Homo sapiens: one gene and its partners. The protein of the gene in region 3 purifies or fractionates together with the protein of the main gene of each other region. This does not show direct contact. Each region holds a gene or a part of one and is shown on either strand. Other genes may lie near its edges.

Region 1 (3,716 bases), on a different chromosome or scaffold from region 3:
CCTGAGGGCCGCGATGGCTGCCGCCCAGTCGGGCACCCCAGGTAGGTGGAGGATGGTGATGCTGAGCAGTGCTGGGGCCGAGGGGCTGGGGACATGTTATGGACTCAGCGTCCTCCCTGTCCCTGCAGGTCCGGTGTTTGTGGAGCTGCCCGTTGACGTGCTGTACCCCTACTTCATGGTCCAGAAGGAGATGGTGCCAGCCAAGCCACCCAAGGGCCTCGTGGGCCGAGTGGTCTCCTGGTGAATAGCCCCACCCCTGCCATTCCCTCCTTTATCCCCCGTTCTCTCCTGCAGCTTCCAGCCCACACCCATCCTCCTTTGATTCACATGTGGACTGGGAGGAGACAGCTGGGGGGAGAGCATTCCAGGTAGAAGGAACAGCATGTGCAAAGGTCCTGAGGCAGGAATGAACTGGGTGGGTAGGGAAAGCAAGGCGGCCCTCGTGGAGGCAGCAAAGGGGAGAGGCTCAGGACAGCCCTCCTCCTCCTCCTTTTCCCTTTCTTCTCCTCCTCCATCATCTCTTCTTCCTCCTCTTCCTCCTCCCTCTTCCTTCCTCTTCTCCTCCCTTTCCCCCACCACCTTTCCCATCGTCCTCTCCGTTTTCCTCCTCCTAAAGGATGATCCTTGAACCTCGGAAGGGAGGTTCATTCTTACATTTACAGAGGAGGAAGCTCAGAAAGGTGAAGTCACTTGCCCAAAGTCACACAGCTAAGAAGTGGCAGAGCCCAGGCCGGGTGCGGTGGCTCTCACTTGTAATCCCAGCACATTGGGAGGCCGAGGTGGGCAGATCACGAGGTCAGGAGATCGAGACCATCCTGGCTAACATGGTGAAACCCCATCTCTACTAAAAATACAAAAAAAAAAAAAATTAGCCGGGCGTGGTGGCGGGCGCCTGTAGTCCCAGCTACTTGGGAGGCTGCGGCAGGAGAATGGCGTGAACCCAGGAGGTGGAGCTTGCAGTGAGCCAAGATCGTGCTACTGCACTCCAGCCTGGGTGACAGAGCAAGACTCCGTCTCAAAAAAAAAAAAAAAAGTGGCAGAGCCCAGACTCGAGCCCTCTCCTTCCTCCTCCTTTCCTTCCCTCACATCTTTGTCCTTTTCTTTCTTTTTTTTTTTTTTTGAAACAGATTCTTCGTTCTGTTGCCTAGGCTTGAGTGCAGTGGCGTGATCTCGGCTCACTGCAACCTCCGCCTCCCCCTGGGTTCAAGTGATTTTCCTGCCTCAGCCTTCTGAGTAGCTGGGACTACAGGCGCCCGCCACCACACCTGGCTAATACTTGTATTTTTAGTAGAGACGAGGTTTCATCATGTTGGCCAGGCTGGTCTTGAACTCTTAACCTCAAGTGATCCACCCTCCTCGGCCTCTCAAACATTACAGACATGAGCCACTGCGCCTGGCCTCTTCTCTTCTTCTTCTTCCTTTCCTTTCTTCTCCTCCTCCTCTTCCTCTTCTTCCTCCTTCTCTCCCTTCCCCTCAGTCCCTTCCCTTTGCCTGTCCTTGGCCCTTCCTTTCCATACATTTAGCGAGCGGCAGCCATGTGCCAGGTTCCAGGACAGGCACGGGGCATCATCAGTGGACAAGGTAGTCAGGCTCCTGTACTCCGGATGTGTGTGAAGCGCCTGAGGGTCAGCTCAGGCAGTAGTGATTTTGTTCTATGGCCTCTTTATTTTTTTTGAGACGGAGTCTCGCTTTGTCCCCCAGGTTGGAGCGCAGTAGTGCGATCTTGGCTCACTGCAACCTCCACCTCCCGGGTTCAAGTGATTCTCCTGCCTCAGCCCCCGGAGTAGCTGGGAATACAGGTGCAGTCCACCATACCCAGCTAATTTTTGTATTTTTAGTAGAGATGAGGTTTCACCATTTTGGTCATATAGCCTCATTCTTAATGCACTTTGCCCCCTGGCTTCCCAGTCAGTCCCTCCCCTTGTTCTCCTTGCCCCTCTCTCTTGGGCTGCCTCTCACAAGGCTATCTCTTATCTTGCCTTTTTTGTTTTGTTTTGTTTTGAGACAGGGCCTCACTCTATCACCCAGGCTGGAGTGCAGTGGTATGATCATAGCTCACCACAGCCTTGAACTCCTGGCCTCGAGCAATCCTCCTGCCTCAGCCTCCCTTGCCTTTTCTTTACTTGCGGGGCTTCCCACGGTTCCATCCTGGGCTGCTTCTGTGCTGTCTTGGCCTGTCCTTAACGGTGAAAGCAGAGGCTTCTGACTCTGAGCTCCGACTGTTTCCTGCCAATGCCCATGTGTCTGTCTTTCGCTGGATAGAGCGCCCCCTGAGGGGAGGGCTGGGCAGGATCTATCTTTGTGTCTCCAGGGCCCTGCACAGGTCCTTCAGGAAAGTTGGGGCCCTGGGGCCCAGTGAGCAAGGAGACCGAGAAGACCCTGTTTGAAGCAGGAGAGGACAGTGTTCAGAACTCCCATGCAAAGCGCCTCATGTCCTAAGTGGACAGATCCTTGAACCTGGGGAGGGAGGTTCATATTTACATTGACAGAGGTGGAAGCTCAGAAGGGTGAAGTCACTTGCCCTAAGTTGCACAGCTAGGAAGTGACAGAGCCAGGACTTGAGCTCACATCTGTTGGACCCACAGGCTTAATCCTGGCATGCTGAGCCTGCGTTCCTTGCTTCTGGGGGGCTACGTGGAGTTGGGGTGGACCCCAGAGGCTACCGAGGGCAAACAGGCAGTTGAAGACCTGGCCACTAGGGTTCGTCTGTCCCTGAGGTGTCACTCATCCACCCTGTCCCCATGCCACTTTGCTCCTGGCTTTTCTCCCGGCCCCTTTCCTTGCTCAGATCCTGGAATCCTTGTAGTTAGTTAATTCTGGCAACTTGGTTTCTTCCCCCTCCCTTTTGCAGGTATTTAGAGAATTACCTGGCCAACCTCTTTGCAGGAGCCTGGGAGCCTCAGCCCGAGGGACCGCTGCCCCTGGACATCCCCCAGGCTTCCCCGCAGCAGGTGAATTGCCTCTCTTTTGTGTCTGAGGACCCTACCCTCTCCCTGAGGGGAGAGGGCCCCCTGACCCTCTCCCTGAGTCAGTACTGGGGCCTTAATCTTGGGTGCTCATGGCGACTCAAGGGCGGCCCTTTGGCTGGACGCGGTGGCTCACAGCAGCAATCCCAACACTTAGGGAGGCCGAGGCAGGCGGATCACTTGAGGCCAGGAGTTCAAGACTAGCCTGGCCAACATGGTGAAACCCTGTCTCTACTGAAAATACAAAAGTTAGCCAGGCATGGTGGCACGCGCCTGTAATCCCAGCTACTCTGGAGGCTGAGGCGGGAGAATCGTTTGAACCTGGGAGGTGGAGGCTGCAGTGAGCTGAGATCATGCCATTACACTCTATCCTGGGCAACAGAGTGAAACTGTGTCTCAAAAAAATAAATAAATAAAAAGACAGCCCTTTGATCCCCACCTCTCGCTCCAGGTTCAGCGCTGTGTGGAGATCCTGAGCCGGGCCAAGAGGCCTCTGATGGTGCTGGGGAGTCAGGCCCTGCTCACCCCAACGTCTGCCGACAAGCTTCGGTGAGAAGCGCCAGCCCTGCCCTTGTTTTCACGTTCCCAGTCCCCAGTCCTCGGGTGCTCTTGGGGAGGCGGGAGGCCCCGGCCACACTGACCTCTGCTCTGCCTGGACTCCCAGGGCTGCCGTGGAGACCTTGGGTGTTCCCTGCTTCCTTGGAGGGATGGCACGGGGGCTGTTAGGCCGCAACCACCCCCTCCACATCC
Region 2 (3,716 bases), on a different chromosome or scaffold from region 3:
AATATCACCACCCTATAAAAAGGAATGAGGCACCCATATATGCTACATGTGGATGAGCCTCAAAAACTGATGCTAAGAGAAAGAGGTCAGACACAGAAGTGCACATATCATGATTCCAATCATACGAAATGACCAGAGACAGAATACAGATTGGTGGTTGTCAGAGATTGGGTGTGGGGGTGAGCAGGGATGGGGAGCAACTGCTTACCAGGTGAGGGCCGCCCTATGGGTGATGCATATGCTTTAGAACTAGGCGGAGGGGGTGGGTGCACCTCATTGTGAATATGCTGAATCCCTCTGCATGGCTCACTTTAAAAACAGTTAATTTTATGTTATATGAATTTCACTTCAAATTAAAAAAATAATGTAGGACAATGAAAAAAAAAGGCAGTTAGATCTTAGATGTTTTTCCCCTCTCCACAGGGTAGATCTGTACCCCTCTTCCAGCCTGGCAGGAGACTGGAGGTTCTGTTTCTAGGGATAGTAAGTCTAGATAAAGAGAGAGGTTTAAGGGAAAGTCTGTCTAGACGGCGCACACGAAGACACCAACACACTCCCCAGCTTCATCCTCACAGGAGGCTGGAGGACACTCCGCTTGAGCCCGGGAGGCAGAGGTTGCAGTGAGCCGAGATCGTGCCACTGTACTCCAGCCTCAGCGACAGAGCAAGACTCTGTCTCAAAAAAAAGGAAGAAAAAGATTGTTGATGCGATGGCAACTAAAAAACGTTTTCCATTTTAAAAACATTTCAGGCCGGGCCTGGTGGCTCATGCCTGTACTCCCAGCACTTTGGGAGGTAGAGGTGGGCCAGTCACCTGAGGTCAGGAGTTTGAGACCAGCCGGGCCAACGTGGCGTAAACCCATCTCTACTAAAATAAAAAAAATTAGCTGGGTGTGGTGACATGTGCCTGTAATCCCAGCTACTAGGGAGGCTGAAGCAGGAGAATCACTTGAACTTGAGAGGTGGAGGTTGCAGTGAGCTGAGATCACGCCACTGCACTCCAGCCTGAGTGACAGAGTGAAATTCCATCTCAAAAAAAGAAAAAATAAAAATTTCAAATCTAGTGTTCATTTCTTTGGTGCTGAAATAAATTACCAAGAGAAGTTCCTTGGTAAACCTGATTAAAAATAGAAACATCAATAAGATGCAGTATCTTTTTATCTTGATTTGAGAACTCTAGTGAGTCTGTCCTTCAACTTTTTTGGTTTCTCCTTGTTAATAATACTGATGTTTGATAGGAACATCCGGCATCTCTTAGGTTACAAAGTGTTCTCTTGAAAATATGACCTCAGTGAACTGCTACAGTAATCTGTGTCAGATTAGAAGGTCCATTCCCATTTTAGCTGGTTTTCTCAGCTGTAAAATGTCTAAACTCTTAAGCTTCAATGGTCCTGACACTGGGATGAAAACCTTGTTCAGCTTCACCTTGTTCAGCCTTCCTCTAGAGTCTTCTAAAGCTTCCATGGACATCTGAATGCATTCATCTAATTGATTCTTAAAGCTTTTACCCGTAGCTTGCTCTGCTTTTAGCATATGTGCTACTGCAGTGAGCAAACATTTTTACTTACTTCAAAGGTACTAACTTCAAGATCTTCAAATTTTCCTGACACTGCCATTCCTGCACAATTTACCAGCATGTCCACTGGACCCAGTTTCTCCTGTGCCTAGAAAAATGTAGCAGAGCAGGCATTAAGAAACAGAGAAGAAAAACCACTCAGCAGCAAATCCATGCTGATAAATAAAATTTACAAAACTATTAAACCTATAGAGAAGTTGTGTCCATTCCAAGCCACATAGCAAAATGGCAAGAACAAATCAAAAGTCAAGCACATTGGTGAATTCCAATTAGCCCAACCTCTTACTTGTTTTATGACATTCTCTACTTGGTTATAGTCTTGAGATACATCAACTGATATGCAAAGCACCACCTGTTAAAAAAGAAAAAAAGTGATCAAAGTTTTGCAGGTACCAAACTATTTCTTAAAGATATTTTTTAAAGAAAAGACAGTTCATTGAATACAGAAGGAAGCCAATATTGAATGAACAGATTTCAGTGTTTGCTGATGATGCAATTAGCAGAATCTAATTTTCTTGGCAGCTTTTGGAGTTAAAACTCTGAGGAATCTTTTTAAAAATATATAAATGCTCCTCTTGAAATGCCACTAATCTATAGTGACAGAAGGCAGATCAGGGGTTGCCCACAGCCAGGCATGGAGGATGGAAGGAACTGTGAAAGGGCACAGGCCAACCCTAGGGAGTGATGGAAATATTCCATATAAGGGCCTCAGTGCTGATTCCTTTCAAGAAGGAATCCTGTCCAAATGATCAAAATTCCTAAGAAAAGGAAACAGCCCTCTTTGCAAATATAACCTGCAGCATTCTAGTCTAGAGGGGTTGCCCTTGGTTGTAATGTATACCTAGAGTGGATTTTATCCCAACATCCTCAGATAGAAAACATTGTTTTAAAGGTAGTAGTAATCGGCCAGGCGCGGTGGCTCACGCCTATAATCCCAGCACTTTGGGAGGCCGAGGCAGGTAGATCATTTGAGGTCAGGAGTTTGAGACCAGCCTGGCCTACATGGTGAAACCCTGTCTCTACTAAAAATACAAAAAATTAGCCTGGCGTGGTGGTGGGCACTTATAATCCCAGCTACTCAGGAGACTGAGGCAGGAGAATTGCTTGACCCTGGGAGATAGAGGCTGCAGTCAGCTGAGATCATGCCATTGCACACCAGCGTGGGCAACAGAGTGAGACTCCGTCTCAAAAAAAAAAAAAGGCAGTAGTAATCATATGATTAATTTTAAAACAAGCCTTTTCATGCAGTATTAGATCAGTTACTAATAATAAAATCTATGCCACAGACAAGTGAAATCTCAGAACAAAAAAATGTTAACAAGTCACACACACACACAAAAGGTCCCTAGAAGCCTGGCAGGGCAGAAGGATCAAGCTCATTCTCGCCTGCCCCAGCCCTATCTCCCTTCCTTGATGTGAAAGGTAAGTTTTCCACCTGACCTAAAGTCCTTTGGTAGATGAAGAGGTAGAAGGTGTCATGATGAGGAAGCCCAGAGCGGAGACAGTGTTGGCAGCAGGCAAGACTGGCCTTGGCCCTGAACACTGACTCCATGACTTCACACCATACTCCTTCGTCTATCAGATATTACAGGAATACGGGAAAAAACGGGGCAATTTACAGAGCTGGTGTTTTTCCAATGCTTGTGGGCTTCAGAGAAGGGGGTAAAGACCACAGTCTTAGAGAAAAACTCACATGTGCAGAAGATATACACAAGGATTTTTACTTGCAGCACAGACTGCAATTGCAAAAATAAAAATACAAAATAAAATAAAAAGAATGGAAACAGCTCAATAGCAGGGACCTGACGGAATAAGCTCTGGTGTACTTCAATCCTAGGCTGCAGCAATTTAAGGCAAATTTACTTAATGCACATGGAAAGATCTCTAACATTCTAGAAGGGAAAAAGTCAATGAATACCACAGTGAAATACTATTCAAAACTCATCAGAAAGGCAAAAAGTAAAAAGTCTGTCAATACCAAGTATTGGCAGGGATGTGGCGCAACAGAAACCGCATTCCTACTTATGGGAGCTTAACCACTTTGGTGAGGTTGAAGAACTGCATACACTACAGCTCTGCAATTCCATTTCTGGGTATGTACCATTCTTGCACACGTGCACAAAGAGAATACTGAAAGCTTT
Region 3 (3,296 bases):
GACCAAGCAGCAACAGCATGAAGAAGAACAGGGCAGCCCAGAGTGGGGCCACTGGCATCAGCGTGACAGCCCGCGGGTAGGCGATGAAGGCCAGGCCCGGCCCTGTGGGAAAGGTGCAGGCTCTAGACCTTGTAGCCGATGTCCTGCCCTGTGCGCACCCTGAGCCCTGCCTGCAACACTCGCGCCCATGCCCACGCCTGCCTCAGAGGCGCTGTCAACCCTGGGTCGTGCGGCAGGGGCTGGGAGGTCCTTTCTCTGTCAACATTGACAAATCCCAGGACCTGCCCCCACAGGCCCACAATCTGACAAGTTCCGTTTGAATCCTCGTCACTTTTCAGCATTTCTATTGCATGTTCCTGTACATCATGCATCTGGGTAGCACTCGCTGCTCTGGAGGCGGGGCTGGGGGTAGGGCCCTACCTGACTCTGCCACCTTGGAGATGTGCACGCCCTGCTCTGCAGCCATGAAGCCCAGGATGGAGAAGACCACGAAGCCAGCAAAGAAGCTGGTCCCACTGTTGATGAGAGCCAGGATGATGGCGTCCCTGAGGGGTGGAGGGGCCAGAGTGGATGGGTTAGGCTGCTGGGCAGGGCGGGGCAGGGCAGGACAGGGCACGGGTGGCAGGGCGGCGGTGCTTACTTGTAGCAGTTGTTGTTGAAGCGGTTGTAGCTGCCCAGGGCTGTGAGGGCCCCCAGGCCAATGGCGTAAGAAAAGAAAATCTGGGTCCCCGCATCTATCCACACCTAGAGAAGGGCCGGAGAGCGCAGGCATGAGGGGCCTGCAGGGCTCCCCCGCAGCGCCCTGCTGCAGCCTCTCCACCTCCACCTCACCTGAGGGGACCCCAGCTTTGACCAGTCAGGCTTGAGATAGTAAATGATGCCATCCAGGGCGCCAGGCAGCAGCACTCCACGCACCAGCAGCACGACCAGGACCACGTAGGGGAATGTAGCAGTGAAGTACACGATCTGGGGGGCCAGGCTGCTCAGCGGAGGCTGTGGCACCACCTCCCTCACACCCCCACTCCCAGCGCCTCCGGTCCCCCTTGCGGGCAGGTATGTTCAGAGGTCCCCATTGTCCTCCGAGCCATGGCTCCCGCCAGAGGAAGCTAGGGGCAAGGCTGCGCCCCGGCAGCCCTGGCCAAGTGCAGTGGGGAAGCTCCCTGGGCGCCTCGTTTGTCTGCAGGGACGCGTGTCGGTGGGGAGCAGGCGAGCCTCTGGGAGCTCTCCTCAGTGGGGACAGGAGGCGTGGAGCACGTGGGGAGTGAGAGCTGTATGAGTGTGTGGGCAGTGCAGGTGTGGGAGGCCCAGGCAGGGAGCGGGATATTGGATCCGGGTCGGGTCCCCCTCCTCTTCTGGAGAGAGGTGGGGGTTGAGCAGGTGGAGAGTGGAACTGGGCCAGGCAGAGGCAGGCGAGATGCAGCTGCCACACTGTCTGCCCCCTCTTCCCACATGCTGCTCTGGGGACCTTGTCCCCCAGGGAGCTGGCCATGTCCCACAGCTCTAGACACTGTCTTCTTTGTTCAGGTGACTCCCCAGCCTGACCAGGAGCCCCCAAGGGATGTGGCCAGACTCTGCTCTGGGTCCCCAAGGCAAGATAGGTAACAGATGGCCAGACCAGGTCCACCAGACTGTCACAAGAGTCAGAGACTGGCAGGAGGGCACCAGTGGGGGTGATGGGCACAGGGAAGGGACAGTGCCTGCCAGGGCCTCTATCCCCAGGAGCAAAGGCTGCTGGGCCCTGGATTTGCAGGGTGGGGAGCATTGCTTGGCTTTCAGTACCTCCCCCTTCCTTAGGGCTAGACTCTGTCTGGTCACCTCCCGTTGCCACAGGTGTGCCTGGCACAGACATCCGGCTCCCAGGGCTGAGCCACCCTCCCCGCTGCATGCCTCTAGTGGTACCTTTCCCGTGGATTTGACCCCCTTCCAGACACAGAAGTAGACCAGCACCCAGCAGGCCAGCAGACAAAGGGTCACCTCCCAGTTGAGGGCCCCTGGCACCTCCAGTCCCCCAGACAGCCTCAAGACTTTGTTCCTAGGGGAGGGAGGGAGGTCCCATGAGGCCTGTGCCAGCAGAGGATGGAGCCACAGGGTCCACCCCCAGGAGTTGTGGCTCCCTTCTCTCCCACAGCCCAGGGTTCAGCGGGTCCCTCTTGTCCAATTGGGCTGGGCCTGGAGCCCACGATCCCCTGGCCATTGGGAGGCCACTCCCATCCCACCTCACATGCAGCCCCAGCTCCCCCATCAGGGGGGAGTGACCAGGACAGTGATCGGCTGCCGAACCCAGGAGCGAGGCTGGCCCCAGGACTCTCCGAGGACAGGCAAGGGCAGGCAGGGTCCAGGATGGACTGCCAGGCAACACCCTGGTGCCCCCTCAGGGCCACTCCCCTGGAGCCGGGCAACATGAGGGAGACCTGGGGGATGGGATGGGCTTGGCCCAGAGGTGCCGGACTCACTCCCAGAACTCGATGACAGGGGACCGGCGGTCAGCAAGCTGGTCACAGGTGAGGTTGGCCAGGCTGGCATTGGCACAGTCTTCATGGCGGAAGATCTCCACGCAGTCGGGAGTGTTCCAGGTGTGGCCACATGTGGCCCAGGGCAGCGTGGTGGTAAAGGACTTGACCAGGTAATAGAAGCCCCAGGCCAGCACCATGATGTAGTAGGTGTTGCAGTAGAAGACGATCACCATGGAGGCGTAGCCCAGGCCTGGGGCCGGGAAGTCCTTGCCATGTAGATTCTTCCCTGGCCACCTCCCCCTGCCACCCCTTTATGTCCCCACCCAGGCTGGCCGTGCTCCCACCATCTGTCCTCCTGGAGCCTTGTTTGTGGTGCTCCTGACTCCCCTGGGCTCCCCCTTGTGTGAGCCCCAACACTGCGCTGACTCCCCAGCCTGTCTCCTCTCCTCCAGCCGCCCCCTAGACCCAAGGCAGAGCGAGCCCCTCTCCTCCTGTCCCCATCTGACCAAGTGCTGTGGAGTCTCCAGCCTCATACACCTGGCCCCTTCTGTGGGTCCCACTGCCACCATGGCGGTTCCAGGAGGTCCAAGCCTCTGCCTGGCCACCCAGTAGCCTCCAGTCCTCAGCAGCTGGTGTTGATGGTGGTGGTGGGGGGGGGGGGTTTCTAGTCGCCTGAGGTAGTGTTGGAGACAGTCGCCCCTGCAGTGGGCAACCTCAGTACGTCGCTCCACCTGTCTGTGCCCCAGCGTCCTTGGGGATAGTAACAGTAGGACCTACCTAGAGAGCCAAGGGTGCTGCTGGGCAGGTCCCGTCCCCAGCCCGGCTATGCCTGGCCTGTCCTTG
Region 4 (3,026 bases), on a different chromosome or scaffold from region 3:
CACCACGCTTGGCTAATTTTTTTTGTATTTTAGTAGAGACAGGGTTTCACCATGTTGGCCAGGCTGGTCTTGAACTGCTGACCTCAGGTGATTGGCCTGCCTCGGTCTCCCAAAGTGTTGGGTTACAGGCATGAGCCACGGCACCCAGCCTGCACCTTACATTGTAACACACGTGTGGACACACCCTGGAGTCACAGCTACAGGACAATTTCAGAGTCCATGACGGCCCCACATCCCTTCCCTGGGTCACCAAGGCCTCAATATGCCCCTCCCCCCTCCCTGTGTGTGATATCTATACAAGTCACCTGCATACCTGTAGCAGACGCTGGCATCACTGTGGGCTCCCCGCCCTCCCATTCCTCAAACTGGTTTTCCTCTAAGGTTTCCCTGCCCATCTAACCTTCTCCTGGCACTCCCTCATGGTGCATTTCTCTCACCTGCCCGTCCGTCCCAGGCCACCTGCCCTCTCAGCTGGGACTCCAACTTCCCCTGATTTCTGGTCTCTTCCATCCTGCTTTTGGACTTTTCCTGGGACACTTGCATTTCTTCTTTTTCTTTTTTTTTTTTTTTGAGACAGAGTTTCACTCTGTCACCCAGGCTGGAGTGTGATGCGATCTCGGCTCACTGCAGCCTCCACCTCTCAGGTTCAAGCGACTCTTCTGGCTCATCCTTCTCAGTAGCTGGAACTACATGCATGCGCCACCATGCCTAATTTTTGTTATTTTAGTAAAGACTGGGTTTCACCATGCGTTGACCAGGCTGGTCTCAAACTGCTGGCCTCAAGTGATCTGCCCGCCTTGGCTTCCCAAAGTGCTGGGATTTGGGATTACGGGCGTGAGCCGCCGAGCCTGGCCTCCTTCTTGCTCTCCTTTCTCCTCCCAGACCTTTGCTCCCCTCTCAGTCCTGCTCCTCTCTCCCTCCCGCGCAGCCCCCACCCTGCACCCGGGCAGGTGCCACAGGGACGTGCAAGACAGCTACCACCCTGCACAAGCCCGAGTCCCAAACCACTCAGACCCTGTTTGTAAAAATCGGCATGCTCCTTTATTTGTTCAGAAGAGCAGCCAGCATCACCCTTGCCACTCAAACCTGGCACATACGCTTCGGAGACAATGGCCTCGGGACCCTCATGCTGCTGGGCCCAGGAGAGACAGTTCTGAGGCAGAAACTCGGCGTCCAAGGGGGGCCGCGGGTCAGGCACTGTGGTGAAGGGAACGCCGGGGAGTCCGGCCCCACCTTGCAGCTGGGGACACGGGGGCGCAAACAGAGGGGGCAGGCTAGTGTCCCGCTGCCCCAGGAACAGACCTCAGGGCCCCAGGAGGGTCTGCAGGCAGCTAGGAGCCTGCCAAGTGCTGGTGGAAGTAGAGGCCGAAAAGGCTGGCGAGCAGCTGGCAGGCAGCCGTCCACCAGATGAGGTAGGCCAGGACGCCACGGAGGAAGAGGGGAGTAAGCAGGCCACCCAGAGCCCCGGCAATCCGCGCTGCAGTCTGCTGGACTTCGTCCTCCCCAGAGCCGATGGGGGCAGCGCTGGCTGAGGATGGGTCGGGGGATAGTAGAGGAGCTGGGCCCAGGCCCCAGGAATAGCCTCCTAGGAGAAGAGGATGAAGCGAGGTATGAGTGGAAAAATGGGGGAGGGGGCGAGGGACAGGGCTGGCACGGGGGGCCAGGCCCATTCCTCCAGACACTCCCACCCCTGTCTCAGACTCCATCTCCAGCCCAGTCTCCACCCCCTCAGGCGCTGCCCCCTGTCCAAGGCAAACCCTACCCCAGGCCCCACCTCCTGCTCAGATCCTGCCTCAATACATGCCCTGCCCCCTCCCCAGGCCCCGCCTCCTGCCAAGACGCAACCCCTCCCCAGGCTCCACCTCCTAAGGCAAACGCCATCCCAAACTCCACCTCCTGCTCAGACCCTGCCTCACCACAGTCCCCGCCCCCTACCCAGGCCCCGCCTCCTGCTCAGATTGCACCCATCCCCAGGCTCCACTTCCTGTCCAAGGCAAGCCCCACTCCAGGCTCCGCTTCCTGCTCAGACCCTGCCTTACCACAGTCTCCGCCCCCTGCCTAGGCCCCGCCTCTCCCCCCCCACCGCGGTCCCCGCCAGAGTCCACCTCCACTCTGTTTTATCTTCCAACTCCGCCCCTCCTCCACCCCCACACCGCGGCATCTCACCCAGCGTCTTGAGCAGAAGTGTGCAGTTGAGGGTGAGGATGAGCGGCGTCAGGTACTGCAAGCTCACCACGGTCACATAGCAGTAGACTCGGACCACCTGTGGGCAGGTAGCAGGGGTGGCTGCAGCAGGAGGCCTTCTGGTTTGGGACGACTCCACGCCCAAAGGACCAGGAACCCCACCCTGAGCCCCAGGTTCCCTCTGGCCTAGGTCATCGGGGCGTCCATACCCTCTGCTGGATTTCACGGGCTTCGATGCGGCCAGCCTCCCTTCGCAGCTGCTCCACCCGGGCCTTGGCCAGGCACAGGTAGGCCTGCAGGTGGGGCCGGGTCACCGCCAGCCGCAGCAGGCACAGCACCACCAGCAACCAGAGGCGCCCAGAGTCGAAGGCAGAATCGGACAGCCTGTGCGGAGAGGGCCGGGGGCAAGGGACTAAGAAGGTCGCCCCCGACCCCCCAGGATCTTCCCCAGGCTCCTCCCTGAATCTCAGAGGCTAGGGCACCCAGGGGAGCCCCAGCTACCTCCTAGCCCCACCCAATACGCACAGGGAGAAACGCGTCTCCCCAAACGGCGGCTGGTGCAGGAAGTCCCGTGCAATGGGCTTTGTCCAGAGCCACAGGATGAACAGGGGAGACAGGAAGCTGGTGTGCAGGAGGAACCTGGGGGGTGAGGGCAGGAGGGAGTGAGGCCTGGGTACCCCCTCTCCTCGAGTCTCTCCCTTAAGCTCCCTAGTCCCCCCACCCACCAAGCGACCCACTTAACTGCAGCATGGGTCTGTCCTCCGACATGGTCAGTGCGTCCCGGTGGGTCTGGGCCAGCCGCAGGCCTGGGAAGGTGAGGAAGGCACCCAGCACAGAGCCCA

Evidence for each region.
Region 1: the proteins of SLC6A8 (region 3) and HACL2 purify together in Homo sapiens (affinity purification with mass spectrometry; 2 studies listed by BioGRID and IntAct, with this or other methods). This does not show direct contact.
Region 2: the proteins of SLC6A8 (region 3) and KDSR purify together in Homo sapiens (affinity purification with mass spectrometry; 2 studies listed by BioGRID and IntAct, with this or other methods). This does not show direct contact.
Region 4: the proteins of SLC6A8 (region 3) and TMEM161A purify together in Homo sapiens (affinity purification with mass spectrometry; 2 studies listed by BioGRID and IntAct, with this or other methods). This does not show direct contact.

Annotation. Positions count from the first base shown.
Region 1 is NC_000019.10:15,119,217-15,122,932, reverse strand, and holds part of HACL2 (2-hydroxyacyl-CoA lyase 2), read left to right. Parts: coding exon 1-41; intron 42-128; coding exon 129-240; intron 241-2,851; coding exon 2,852-2,951; intron 2,952-3,417; coding exon 3,418-3,515; intron 3,516-3,630; coding exon 3,631-3,716. UniProt on the Homo sapiens protein: Endoplasmic reticulum 2-OH acyl-CoA lyase involved in the cleavage (C1 removal) reaction in the fatty acid alpha-oxydation in a thiamine pyrophosphate (TPP)-dependent manner. Involved in the phytosphingosine degradation pathway.
Region 2 is NC_000018.10:63,353,637-63,357,352, forward strand, and holds part of KDSR (3-ketodihydrosphingosine reductase), read right to left. Parts: intron 1,928-3,716; coding exon 1,862-1,927; intron 1,664-1,861; coding exon 1,568-1,663; intron 1-1,567.
Region 3 is NC_000023.11:153,690,711-153,694,006, reverse strand, and holds part of SLC6A8 (sodium- and chloride-dependent creatine transporter 1), read right to left. Parts: intron 2,704-3,296; coding exon 2,454-2,703; intron 2,033-2,453; coding exon 1,900-2,032; intron 967-1,899; coding exon 832-966; intron 745-831; coding exon 641-744; intron 546-640; coding exon 421-545; intron 103-420; coding exon 1-102. UniProt on the Homo sapiens protein: Creatine:sodium symporter which mediates the uptake of creatine. Plays an important role in supplying creatine to the brain via the blood-brain barrier.
Region 4 is NC_000019.10:19,118,599-19,121,624, forward strand, and holds the end of TMEM161A (transmembrane protein 161A isoform 1 precursor), read right to left. Parts: coding exon 2,927-3,026; intron 2,824-2,926; coding exon 2,710-2,823; intron 2,569-2,709; coding exon 2,394-2,568; intron 2,264-2,393; coding exon 2,167-2,263; intron 1,586-2,166; coding exon 1,332-1,585; 3' UTR 571-1,331; downstream 1-570. UniProt on the Homo sapiens protein: May play a role in protection against oxidative stress. Overexpression leads to reduced levels of oxidant-induced DNA damage and apoptosis.